3 separate regions of the Homo sapiens genome follow, and all the other regions are linked to region 3. The links come from fine-mapping of genetic effects on gene expression. A gene starts in region 3. Each other region holds a variant in brackets. All regions are shown on one strand. Distances are from middle to middle.

Evidence for each region. PIP is the estimated chance that this variant, and not a neighbour inherited with it, causes the effect. A credible set is the group of variants that fine-mapping cannot tell apart.
Region 1: its variant is the best candidate, but not a certain one, in a credible set for the expression of SLC35E1 in whole blood (INTERVAL, PIP 0.54).
Region 2: its variant is the best candidate, but not a certain one, in a credible set for the expression of SLC35E1 in whole blood (TOPMed, PIP 0.50).

Annotation. Positions count from the first base shown.
Region 1 is chr19:16,536,418-16,540,512 of GRCh38, forward strand. The region is part of intron 2 of CHERP (calcium homeostasis endoplasmic reticulum protein); the gene reads right to left. It also overlaps the pseudogene RN7SL146P. Among named protein-coding and RNA genes, the nearest start is that of CHERP, 4.0 kb to the right of the region's middle. The variant C/A (reference allele first, on the strand shown) is at 2,369.
Region 2 is chr19:16,516,318-16,520,412 of GRCh38, forward strand. It overlaps C19orf44 (chromosome 19 open reading frame 44), which reads left to right. Exons shown (of 9, transcript NM_032207.4): 8 at 913-1,024; 9 at 3,777-4,095. The coding sequence ends at 984. CHERP (calcium homeostasis endoplasmic reticulum protein) reads right to left here. Exons shown (of 17, transcript NM_006387.6): 14 at 4,047-4,095; 15 at 3,832-3,948; 16 at 3,304-3,398; 17 at 1,577-3,035. The coding sequence ends at 2,842. Among named protein-coding and RNA genes, the nearest start is that of C19orf44, 22 kb to the left of the region's middle. The variant G/C (reference allele first, on the strand shown) is at 1,826.
Region 3 is chr19:16,570,497-16,574,591 of GRCh38, forward strand. SLC35E1 (solute carrier family 35 member E1) reads right to left here and starts at 1,919. Exons shown (of 6, transcript NM_024881.5): 1 at 1,448-1,919; 2 at 1,016-1,086. The coding sequence starts at 1,868. It overlaps LOC105372295 (a long non-coding RNA gene), which reads left to right and starts at 2,054. Exons shown (of 3, transcript XR_936360.3): 1 at 2,054-2,312. RefSeq lists silencers at 1,286-1,415, 1,576-1,685, 1,816-2,035 and enhancers at 1,954-2,828, 2,136-2,225.

The sequences.
Region 1 (4,095 bases), 34 kb before region 3:
CTAAATGTGACCAGGTACCCCTGGAGCCCTCCAGAGCCCCACTCCAAGGGGACCAGGACAAAGCCAAAGATAAGGGAGGTGGGGTGTCAGGTGGAAGGTGTCGCCCCTCACTGGGCGCTCAAGTCAAGTCTCGGGGCTGACTGTGCCCTCCAGTTTGTGCACCCAAAGCCACCCTACAGGATGACCCCCAACTTCTGCACTGAATCCCACCCCTCCCACTGTCTGAGGGACACTGCTTATTGATATTTCTTCTATCTCTTATTTCTCCAACTCCTCCCTCTTTACCCGTCCCTCCCCAGCAGCATCTAAACACATTGGGCTGGGCATGATGGCTCACGCCTATAATCCCAGCACTTTGGGAGGACAAGGCGGGTGATCACCTGAGGTCAGGAGTTCGAGACCAGCCTGGCCAACATGGCCCTGTCTCTACTGAAAATGCAAAAAATTAGTCGGGCGTGGTGGCGGGCACCTGTAATCCCAGCTACCTGAGAGGCTGAGGCAGGAGAATTGCTTGAGCTTGCAAGGTGGAGGTTGCAGTGAGCCGAGATGGCGCCACTGCACTCCAGTGTGGGTGACAGAGTGAGACTCCATCTCAAAAAATAAAAAAGGAAATAAATAAACACATCAGAATATTCTGGGTTGGAAACTTCTCCCTTTACCCCATGATCCCTCTCTAAACGATTTCTCAGACAAGACTCACTCCAGATCTTCACCTCCCCTTTATCTCAGCCTGGTGCCTGCTTGCCACTCCCCGCACCCCCCTCCTTCCCCCAGGCAGCTGAGGACACCCTCACTCAACTCAGCCCCCCGGGCCTGTCGCAGGTGCTTGCCTCCCTTGGCCTCCATGTGTTCGCCCCCTCAGTCCCTTTCTCCCCCTTTACCAACCCCTCTCCCGTTGGACCCTCACATGCTGGGGTGCGCGGCCTGTGTTCTGAGCCCTGTCCTCCGCTCTACGCAACCGCCGGGCAACATGAGCTACTCATTCCTGTGGCTGCGATTGTGCATGGTGTGATTCCTAAATCCATCATCTCCATTCTGGATTCCTGAGCTTTGGCCCTAACCACCAACTGCACGGCCCACTGTGTTTCCAAGGGGCCTGTGTTTCCTCTCACCCCCTACACCTATGTCCCCTCCTGTGCTCCCCGCACCATGGTTGGCACCACCATCTGCCCAGAAACCCAGGCCAGAAGTAGCATGTGCCTCCCAGTGACGAGCCACATAGTGTCAAGGCGGCCTCCGAGACATCACTCCAATCAGTCTATGTCCCCGCTGTCACCACCATGGATCTGCTGTCACCTGCGTCACCCCAGAACCGGTCTTCCTGCATCAGGTCCCATCCCTCTACCTCTTTTTGACATGGCAGTCATGGTATTGCCACTTATGGAGTGGTCCCTGGGCTACCCAGCGGTGACAGACGGTTATGGAACCAGAAAGGGAGCATTTCAAAACCTTTCTAGCAGCGTGATGGTTCACGGTCCACATTGTTACTGTGCTTTGCAGAAGTTTTGGTCCACACACAACAGGTTAGAAACTTAAAACACAACACCAGAAATGGTCCTTCACCACAGAGTTCGTGAAGCTCCATTCTACAACAGTTGAGGCCCAGGCTTTAAGGCGTGGGGTGCAGAACTGGCTGTACTGTGGCTAACCCAGCTTCACAACACAGACCTAAACCTTCCACGAGTCTCTCCCACGCTTCCAGGATACACTCCTCACTCCTCTCCAAGCCAGGTCCCCGACTCCTCCCCAAGCCAGGCCTCCAACTCCTCCCCAAGCCAGGCTCCCAATTCTGCACCCCCACCTCTGGCCACTCCAAGAACCCCTCCTACTCTGGGCTTCAGCCACCCTAAGCTCTGGGTTCCCCATTCCCTCCAAGGGCTCCTTCCTCTGCCCGGAACACTTTTCTCCCCTTGTTTTCACCTGGCCAACTCCAACACACCCTTTACATCTAGCCAAGATATCATCACCCACAGAAAGCACTTCTTGGCTGGGTACGATGGCTCACGCCTGTAATCCCAGCACTTTGGGAAGCCAAGGTGGGCGGATCATGAGTTCAAGAGATCAAGACCATCCTGGCCAACATGGTGAAACCACATCTCTACTAAAAATACAAAAATTAGCTGGGTGTGGTGGCGCACGCCTGTAGTCCCAGCTACTTGGGAGGCTGAGGCAGGAGAATCGCTTGAATCTGGGAGGCAGAGGTTGCAGTGAGCCAAGATCTTGCCACTGTACTCCAGCCTGGGCAACAAGAGCAAGACTCCATCTCCAAAAAAAAAAGAAAGCACTTCTTGGCTTCAATCTTCCTGGGCTATAAGCATAAGCACCCTCTCCTTCCTCATAATGGCACCAGCTTCCAAGTGGCCACCCC[C/A]CCGCCCCAGAAAGGGAAAGCAGCCCTTAGCTCAGTCACCCAAGCCAAAGCACCGTCTGAGGTGTCTTCCTCCCCTGCTCATTACACCATCAGGTCGTCAATATGCAACTGGCGCCCAAGTTCATGGATTCTACCCCTTCACCCCACCTGCCCCCCATGCTCCCTCCCTCAGGCTCAACCTACTGACTTAATTCAGACCCCACCATCTCTCACCTAAACAACTGCCCTGTTTGCTCCCCTGCAGGCCTCACTGCTCCCCAGGCTGGTCCCTGTAGCTTGTCCTACACCACCGGCCACACAACCCAAGCCACCCTCTCCCTTGTTTAAAACTCTTGTGGCTTCCCGCTGCCTTTAGAAACGGTTTTTTTTTTTTTTTTTTTGAGACGGAGTCTCGCTCTGTCGCCCAGGCTGGAGTGCAGTGGTGCGATCTCGGCTCACTGCAAGCTCTGCCTCCCAGGTTCACGCCATTCTCCTGCCTCAGCCTCCCAAGTAGCTGGGACTACAGGCGCCCGCTACCACGCCTGGCTAATTTTTTGTATTTTTAGTAGAGACGGGGTTTCACCGTGTTAGCCAGGATGGTCTCGATCTCCTGACCTCGTGATCCGCCCGCCTCGGCCTCCCAAAGTGCTGGGATTACAGGCGTGAGCCACCGCGCCCGGCCTAGCAACGGTTTTAAACTTGGTGTGCTGGGGCTAAGGAAGGATCGCTCTAGAAACACATAAGCACATACAATATTTTGCTTACGATTTCAGGCAGCTGATCTCTCTCCACCCCACCCCCGCATCTCAAACCTAAATAGGCATCAGAAAAACCCCTGGATTGAGTGAAAAAACCCAAACTTTTCCCCTGGCAGTTAACACTCCAGGTCAAACTCTTCCCTCATACAAGCACATTCTTTTATTAAATAGATTCTCTACTATGTCACCCAGGCTGGAGTGCAGTGGCTATTTACAGGCGTGAGGCCACTACTGATCGGCACAGGAGTTTCGACCTGCTCCATTTCTGACCTGGGCCAGTTCACCACCCCTTAGACAGTCGAGTGGTCCCCAGCTCCCAGGGGGTCACCATACTGACACTGAACTTACTGCACACACTCAATCGACACAGCGCACTACAGCCCTGAACTCCCGGGCTCAAGCAACCCTCCAGCCTCAGCCTCTTGAGTAGCTGGGGGTACGGTGTGTGCCACTGTGCCTGGCAATACACACATAAACTCTCTCTCTGTTTCTTGTTCAAGAAACTGCCCCTTTGCAATGTTCTACTCTCTCAGCCTTTCAAGTTTTTGTTGTTGTTGTTGTTAGATGGAGTTTCGCTGTCTCCCAGGCTAGAGTGCAGTGGCACGATCTTGGCTCACTGCAACCTCCACCTCCCAGGTTCAAGCGATTCTCCTGCCTCAGCCTCCCGGGTAGCTGGGACTACAGGTGCCCACCACCATGCCTGGCTAATTTTTTTTGTATTTTTAGTAGAGATGGGGTTTCACCATGTTGGCCAGGCTGGTCTCGAACTCCTGACCTCAAGTGATCCGCCTGACTCAGCCTCCTAAAGTGCTGGGATTACAGGCACAAGCCACTGGGCCTGGCCTCCTTTCAAGCTGCTTTTTTTTTTTAGATGGAGTCTCATTCTGTCACCCAGGCTGGAGCGCAATGGTGTGGTCTCGGCTCAATGCAACCTCCAGCTCCCAGGTTCAAGCGATTCTTCTGCCTCAGCCTCTCCAGTAGCTGGGACTA
Region 2 (4,095 bases), 54 kb before region 3:
GCCCGTAGTCCCAGCTCTCTGGGAGGCTGAGGTGGGAGGATCACTTGAGCTGGGGAGGTTGAGGCTGTAGTGAGGGAGAAAGCGGGACTCTGTCTCAAACAAACAACCATAATGCAATAATACACAAACCAAATTTACTAAGTATCAAGGAATATCCAGTGTTGAGATTTCTGCTTGTCTGATTTAAAGTTGTGTGTTTTGTTCCGATTTGGTAATTCGGATCCAAAGTCCATACTATCCGATATGTCCTTTGAGCCTCTTAATCTAGAGCAGCGACCGGTTCTCAATGCTGAGCGGTTGGGGATCCCCTGGAAGCCCTGTGAAAGCGATGCTGGGCCCGCAAGCAGGCGGGGTGGGCCTGGAGCTAGGCGTTTCTCCCACATGCCCCGGGACGCTGCTTTGGAACTGTGCCGAGTCCCCTGCATGCCAGGCCTCTCGTTTCCTTGTGGTTTATCTGCTGAAGAGGGCAGGTTGTGAGTCCCACGGGTCTCTACAATGTCAACTTTGCTCATTGCAGCCCTCTGGGGGCTTTGAACTCATGCCTCTGTTGGGCGTCCATCAGCCCATCCGATGCAGGCAGAAGCCATCTGACTGTGCCACCTGGCTGCAGCCCACCATAGCTCCCAGCTGCTTGCTCCAGGCGCTTCTCCCTGATCTCAGCCACTCCAAGGGCACTCACAGGCACCCCTCCCTTTCTCTGTCAGGGCTCACCCCTCGCAGGGCTGACCCTCTACCCTGTGTTCCCACAGCCCCGTGCGCCAACCTGTCACACACATCCTGTGGTTTTACACTTCTGTCACTGACAGGAGCCTGCTGGGGACAGGTGCTGGCTCCACTCCCTCCTCCAGCACCCTGTCTCAGAGTGTACTGAGGTGACGATGGTGATGGCGTGGTCTGTTCTCTGCCTGACAGTACATTAGGTGCCACAGACCTGCCCCACTGACCATGGAGGATGCCCTGGAGGAGGTGAACAAGGAGCTGTGAGCGCCAGCAGGTGGAGCTTGACGTGACGTCTTAACAAAAGGTATCCCGTCCTGTGTACTCAGTGCACACACACGCACACAAACATAGAGCTCATCAGTGTCCAAGTGTGACGTTCCGTGGTGGGGGCAGGTGGTACTGGGGTGATGGACACACACACACACAGTCAGCATCCAGGTGTGACATTCCATGGTGGGGCAGGTGGTGCTGCGGTGAGGGCCCCAGACTCCTCTGAGCCAAATCCCAGCTCAGTGACAGCTCTCCCAGCAGCATGCCCAGCTCTATGACACCACAGGCCAGTGGAAATAGAATTTCAGTGGAGCTGTCCCCACTCACAGCAGGACAGGGGCCACCAGCCTCTGCAGAGCAGCTCCACCCAGGCAGGTCCTGGCATCCCAGTGAGCCAGAGGGAGACAGGGTGGATGGGAGAAGCCCTGCTCGAGGGTAAGGACATGGGACCAGGTCAGCACGCTGGGGACGCCATGTGAGCCCCTGGACACGGCCTCTGACCCCAGGCTGCACAGCTCAAACCAGGACATGTGTCTCCTCACTCAGCCCGTGCACACTTCTGACTTACACATGTGCGGGAGAAAGGTCTTTAAAAAAAGGCTTTATTTGAAGGCAAAACAATGAAATCCACAAGAAATTACTAACAGCACGTGTTTACGTTTTATCCTGAATCATACATTTTAACAATTCACAGCTACAGGAAATCTAGAACAAAATCAAATATTCATCACGTTGGGTTGAAAAGTTGGAAGATTTTGCATCTTATTGAAAAGAATTTTTCAAAAATGTTTCTGTACAAATGAATGGAATTGCACCAGGCTGCCCATGGACACCA[G/C]GTGTGGCCGATTCCCAACGGTCACCCACCAGCTTCTGGCAGGAGCAGCTCCCCTCCTGGCCTCCCCTCCCTTCGGGGGTGTGAAATGAAATGATGGAGTGGAAGGCGCTGGCTGGGGTCGGGCTCCATGCTCTGGATGGGACTGGGCCGTCGCACACGCCAGCCGGTGCAGGGTTCTTCCAAGTGCAAAACTCAAGCAGGGGACGCGACGGGCACAGACTCCGAGGCAGCGCTCAACCTGAAGTGTCTTAGGCTGGTTTCCTGTTAGAATCTTGTTTCCCAGATAACAGCAAATGGCTACATTCCAGAAAAAAAATATCAACTTATACAACTAAAATAACTGAACTAAGGGCCAGTACGCCTTCGAAGAATTAGGTTTCAGAATCTCACTGGGCCTCCTCTCAGGTCAGTATTCTTCTTTCTAGACCTAAACCAAGGAGAGTAAAAATGAAAACCCTGCTTCACTTCGCAAGTCAAGTCAAAGTTTTGTGTTTCTGTTTTTCAATCCGCGGGCAGTCATGGCACTGGGCTTCGGCTTTGTCCCTACACAGCCGAGGGGAAGCCAGGTCAGGGCCGGTGGGTGCGGGGAGCTGGAGGAAGGAGCTGGGGTGCCGGCTCTGGCTCAGGCCAACCCTTCCTGCACATGCTCCTCCTGGAGCCTAGGAGGAGGCTTCAATCTGACTTAGGGCAGATGCACATCCATCCCTTCGTGGCTGAAGAATTTACTCGGGCGGAGGGTCTTGTGTTTTTTGCTTCGCTATAAAGGAAAACGAGCCTGGGGCCCTGGTGGCTGCAGCGCCTCCTGGTGTGGTTTGTGGGTGGCACCCGTGCCCTCCACGCCATGGAGCACGGCGTTCCCACTGGGCATGCGCTGGTCTTCCTTCTCTTCCTGTGGCTCTCCACAAGTGGAGACGGTGTAAGAACTGAGCTGTCACTGCAATCTTCCTCTGCCAGTCAGCCAGGAAGGTCCCACAGCCGGCACCGCTGGCCACCGGCGCGGCTCCCGGCATGGGCGCCTACTTACACTCGTCCCTGGCCTTCATGCGGGCGATGAAGGAGTAGCTCTTGTTCCTGCGGTAGTTCTCATAGGGGTCATCCAGAGCCACGCCCACGCCTTTATACTGGTCCCACTTATCCCGGACGTCCCCGCCCTTGATGGGGTCCTGGATCCCTTGCTCCTTCGCACCGAGGCCGCCTGAGCCGCTCCAGCCTGGAAACAGAGACGCAGTCACAACCACAACAAGGCGGAGGCAGATGGGGGTGCACGTGGGGGGCTGAATGTCCAGACAGGCAGTGTAGACATGGGAAATGGGTAGAGAGAACCCGCAGGCCGGCCCTGTCTAGAGGGTCTGGGTGGAGTCAGAACCGGCCTGACTCCATCCATCCCCACATGCACTGAGGAAGAGAAAGCGCTGGTGACTCCCGGGCCCAGCACGCGTGAGGACCCATCCCGCGCCCTCCCCATTCCCTCGCCTTACCCATCTTCACCAGCATCTGATGGCCTTTGTTCTCTTCTCCGAGCCTTGAGTCAGGGATGGGAGGCGCCGAATTAGAACCCAGACCAGCAGAGGAACTAAAATCGAGACAGGTTATTCTTTTTAAGAAGTAACTGAGACATTTATTGGAATGACAGTGATGAGGACCTCACAGCCGCAGCTTGCGTGCATGCTCACTGTCACCAGGTGACACCGTATGCAGATTTTGCGTCTCTACCCGTTTATCCTGTCTCAGCTAGATAAGGGGGCTCCAGACGCTGGCCCCCACCCCACGCTCAGCATTGAGAGCAGGACACCTCCAACCCAGATGGTGGTTAGAAAGCAGACCCCAGTTACTGCCTCAGGCTTCGCCAAGTGGCTACTGTGGTGAAGGGTGAGGGGTGCCACTGTCCCCGGGCTAATGCTGGCGGCCTCCTAACACAGTCTCCTAACCACCAATGTTTCCACATTCACAGCAAAGCACCGCAGCTTCCCAGAGTTACCAGCGCAGCACTTAAGACAGGATCTTACGGCGGGGTGGGGCTCCTGGACCGTGACCGGCGTCTTCTTCCTGGGGAGTACGACTTGGACCGGGACCGCGACTGGGACCGGGAGCGGCTTCTGGAGGAGCGCGACCTGCTCCGACTTCTGCAGGGAAGGGTGCCCAAGGGTCAGCAGCAGCCAGGCGTCGTGGGGAGGCCACAGGAAGAGGCCTCAGGCACTGCCCTGAGGCAGCCTCTGCCTACCTAGATCTGGAGCGGGAGTAGGAACGGGAGCAGGAGCGCGACCTTGACC
Region 3 (4,095 bases):
AACAAGCGCCCAACTTCCACTTAAGAATACGGGATAAAGCTGTCTCCGGCTAAAGCCATGGCTATTCTTGCCCCAAGCCAGGAAATACCCTGGCTTGGCATCTTGAACAGAATTTGGACTGTGCCCAAAGCATCCTCCTTATGCAGCCCTGAGTCCTGTGTGCCACTTTCGCTTCCGTTCCCAGACCATCACAACTTCTGGCTGTTTTAATTTCTAAGACTTTGCTGGATTTTGCCAAGATCGAACTCCTTGGATCGCGTCTGGCTTCTGATCCCAGAGGTCCCCTGACAGAAATCTCTTGTCAAGAAGTGAAAACCTAGCCAAGTGCAGTGGCTGACGCCTGTAATACCAGCACTTTGGGAGGCTGAGGCGGACGGATCACTTGAGGTCAGGAGTTTGAGACCAGCCTGGCAACATGGTGAAACCCTGTCTCTATTAAAAATACAAAAAAATTAGCCAGGTGTGGTAGTGCACGTCTGTAGTCCCAACTACTTGAGAGGCTGAGGCAGGAGAACTGCTTGAACCTGGGAGGCGGAGGTTGCAGTGAGCTGAGATTGTGTCACTGGACTTCAGGCTGGGCAAGAGTAAAACTCCGTCTCAAAAAAAAAAAAAAAAAAGTGAACACCTAACCGACAGCGTTCTGATCCATCCATCCCTAGTCCCACTGGAAAGGCCACACATGGGGTGTATGGCCAAGATGTGACCAACCCATCACCTACCAGCAAACCCAGGTAGGGAATCAAAACGGGGAGGAAAATTGGATCTGAAAGGGACAACAGTGTTCCTAAGACCACACAGCAGAGATCACAGAGGGACACATACTCCACACACCACTGCTCACAGGGTGATTCTAGAACTTGAGTAGTAAAAGGCCACTGGAGACCTCTACACTGACTTCCCTATTTGACGGGAAGCCAGGCAGCCTGCAGACCAGGATCCTGACCACGTCACCAGTTGGCAACAGGGAGGAACCCCCTGGAGCTCCCATCTGCCCAGAGTCCCTGCCCGGGGTTACCTTGGTGCTCTGCTTCTCCTTCATAATGATCCGGGACAGGAGGACCACCCAGATGGGCATGGTGGCCTTGACTGCAAAGAGAGGGATGGGCACTCAGGGGGCTGCCTGAATTTCAGGGCCCAACCTGTTCCACCTCCACGGCGGGATGGGAGGGCCTGGCAGCCCCTCACACCTCTTCGCCCCTTCTCTTTCGGTAGGGCTTCCTCCTGCCACGGCTGTTGTGGTCTGTCCTGCTTACCTCTCAGCTCTCTTCTCAGCTCCTCTTCTCCCTGAGAACCCCGTGCGTGTCCCTCCCCTACCAAACCCTTGGCAGCCCCTCTGCTGACTTCTCAGTCCGGCGGGACGCGCCCCGGGCGGCGCACTCCTATCCATGCGCCCAAACCCGAAGCGGCGGGCCCGGCCGCCGCCCCCGAGGCCGGGCGCGGAACCTACCGGTGTGTGCATAGGACACGGGCACCTTCCAGATGCTGACGTGCGCTGACACGGACGCGAAGTACTTGCCGAAGGCGAGCGGTAGCACGTAGCGCGGGTAGAAGCGCGGCGGCAGCAGCGGGCCGGACGACGGATGCGGACTGGGTCCGGGGCCCGAGACGGGCGGCGCGGGGGGCACGCGCCAGGCGCGCAGCAGCGGCGGGAGCCCAGCGCACAGAGCCAGGATGTGGCACAGCGACACGGTCACCGGGAACGGGAAGGCGCTCAGGATCACCTTGTTGACCACGTTGCCGCCCGCGCTCAGCGCGTACCACAGCAGGCACAGCGCCGCCACCCGCGCGCCCTCGCGCGCCCCACCACTGCTGCTCGCTGCGCCCGGGCCCCCCGCGCCGTGGCCCGCGCCCACCGCGGCCGCCGCCATCCTGCCCGAGCGGCCGCCCCTTCCAGCCCGTCCGACGGCCCGACGCCGGGCGGGGGCGGGGCTGGGCGGGGGGGCAGGCGCCCCGGTCTACGCCGTTTCCCATTGGTCGCTGCCTCCTCGCGTCATCCCTCCGCGCCGGCCGACGCGCCAGCCACCACGTCTCGAGTGCAGGCCCAGTCCACTGTAGATGCGCTTCCGGCGGAGCCGAGGCCGGAAGCGGAAGAAGGGGACACAGACCTGCGTCCAAGCTGTGCCACCTGAGACGTGGGCGGTCCCAGTGACCGGGAGCCGGAGCTCGAACGGGACGGGCGAACAGAAGCGCGGAGGGCTTCGCAGCGTCGGCGTCTGTGCGTGGGCCAAACATCAGGGCCTCGACCAGGGATACAAGGGCAACCGCTAACTAGATTCCTGATTCCTGATGGCTGGCGGCGGCTGACACCAAAGGTAAAAGGCCTTTTAGGGAAAGAAACCATTTGTGAAAAGCTCTTGGGCTAAACTCGCTCTGCAAACTGGGGGCGCACGCTCGTGGCCAAACTCTGGCAGTGGGACTATCCCGGAGCACCCGATCCCTGGAATCATGTTCTGGAAACCACCGCGACGTGCGCAGTTCTCGGGCGTGGCCCTGGTATCATCCCACTGAATCCTAGGAACGCGGTGCGGTAGGTATCACTGTCCGCATTTCACAGACCGAAGTCCAGAATGGGGAAGCGACTTGTCTTAGGCTTCCTGGCCACACTGGGGACCGTGGTCATGGTAGCGTCCTTGGACACCTGTCTCCAAGGCTCTGCAGAAGGGGGAGGTGCCGGGCCCTGACGGCTGATGTCCAAGGACCAGCCGGGATGGACCAGCCCCAGGAGGCCCCAGTGGAGGAAAACAGGACGAGGTTTTCAGTAAGATGATCTTATACTAATTCAAGGGCTATAATTTGTTCTCCACATCGTGTGCCTCCAACTTTTTCGGGGAAAGGGTGTTAAAATTCCGTTACAGTGTTTTTACTTGTCAAATTAGAAGCAGCAACCGGCTGGGTGCAGTGAGTCAAGCTTGGAATCCCAGCACTTTGGGAGGCCAAGGTGGGCGGATTGCTTGAGCTCAGGAGTTGGAGATCGTGGCATCGATAACATGGCAGAACCTCATCTTTGCAAAAAATACAAAAATTAGCCAGGCGTGGTGGCGCACGCCTGTGGTACCCACTACTAGGGAGACTGAGGTGGGTGGATCGGCTTGAGCCCAGGTCAAGGTTCCAGTGAGCTATGATGGCGCCACTGCACTGCAGCCTGGGTGACAGAGCGAGACCCAGTCTCAAAGAAAAGTAGAAAGCAGCAACCCAACTTGGCTCCCCAAATGTTGGAAGGTATCTTAGCTTATCCTTGCATTCTCAAAGGCCCTAGGCCCTTCTGGATACATGGACACAGGCATGGTAGTCCCTGCAGGCAGGGGTAGTGGGGAGCTGCAACCTATCCCAAAACTCTAGAGATGCTGATAGGAGGCCAAGCTCTGCACCCTAATATCCTCCAGCTGTACCCTCTGTGGATCAGAGTAAAGTCACATCCTTGGGACACCATGTCTCAGCAGAGCTGTTAAACATAGGCACAGTGAAATTAGGAAAGTATAACTATAGGCACCCTACAGCACAGCTGAGTGTCAGATACTTCCACTGACACACTGACATGCTTTGTGTTTTAGTTCTCACAACTCTGGGGTATTCTCACCCCCCAAATGGGGACATGTGCACAGGAGTGAAGAGATGAGCTCAGAGCCACACAGCTGGTGGGTGGTAGGCCTGGGTTCAACCTCATCCTGCCTTCAAAGCCACTTTGCCCATGGCCTTTTGTTGGGGAGGGGAGTGTGTTCTGCACCAAGCTTTTGCCAGGAATCCCTGCTAGCTCTCAAACTGGCTCTGGACTGACTGTAGTCTTACAGGCTGGAAGGAACCTTTGGTTTGCCCTGTGAGACTGCATGTCTTAAGGTGTAGCTGTTTCTTCATTTGTGAAATTAAGCAGATATGGGTAAGATGACCTATTCCAAAGTGAAAAACTGGAAAACCAAAGTCTTAGCCTACAGTTTCAGGGACGAGGGGGAACTAAAAGATGAGCACTTTATAGTCAAGGGAGAAAAATTTTTTTGGAGTCAGCACCAACCAGCTAATAAGGCAGCTGGGGGCCAGGGCCATGGGGTGGCCTTTCAGACACACACACACAGCTCTGAGCCTCTGGGCCATACCTTGTAA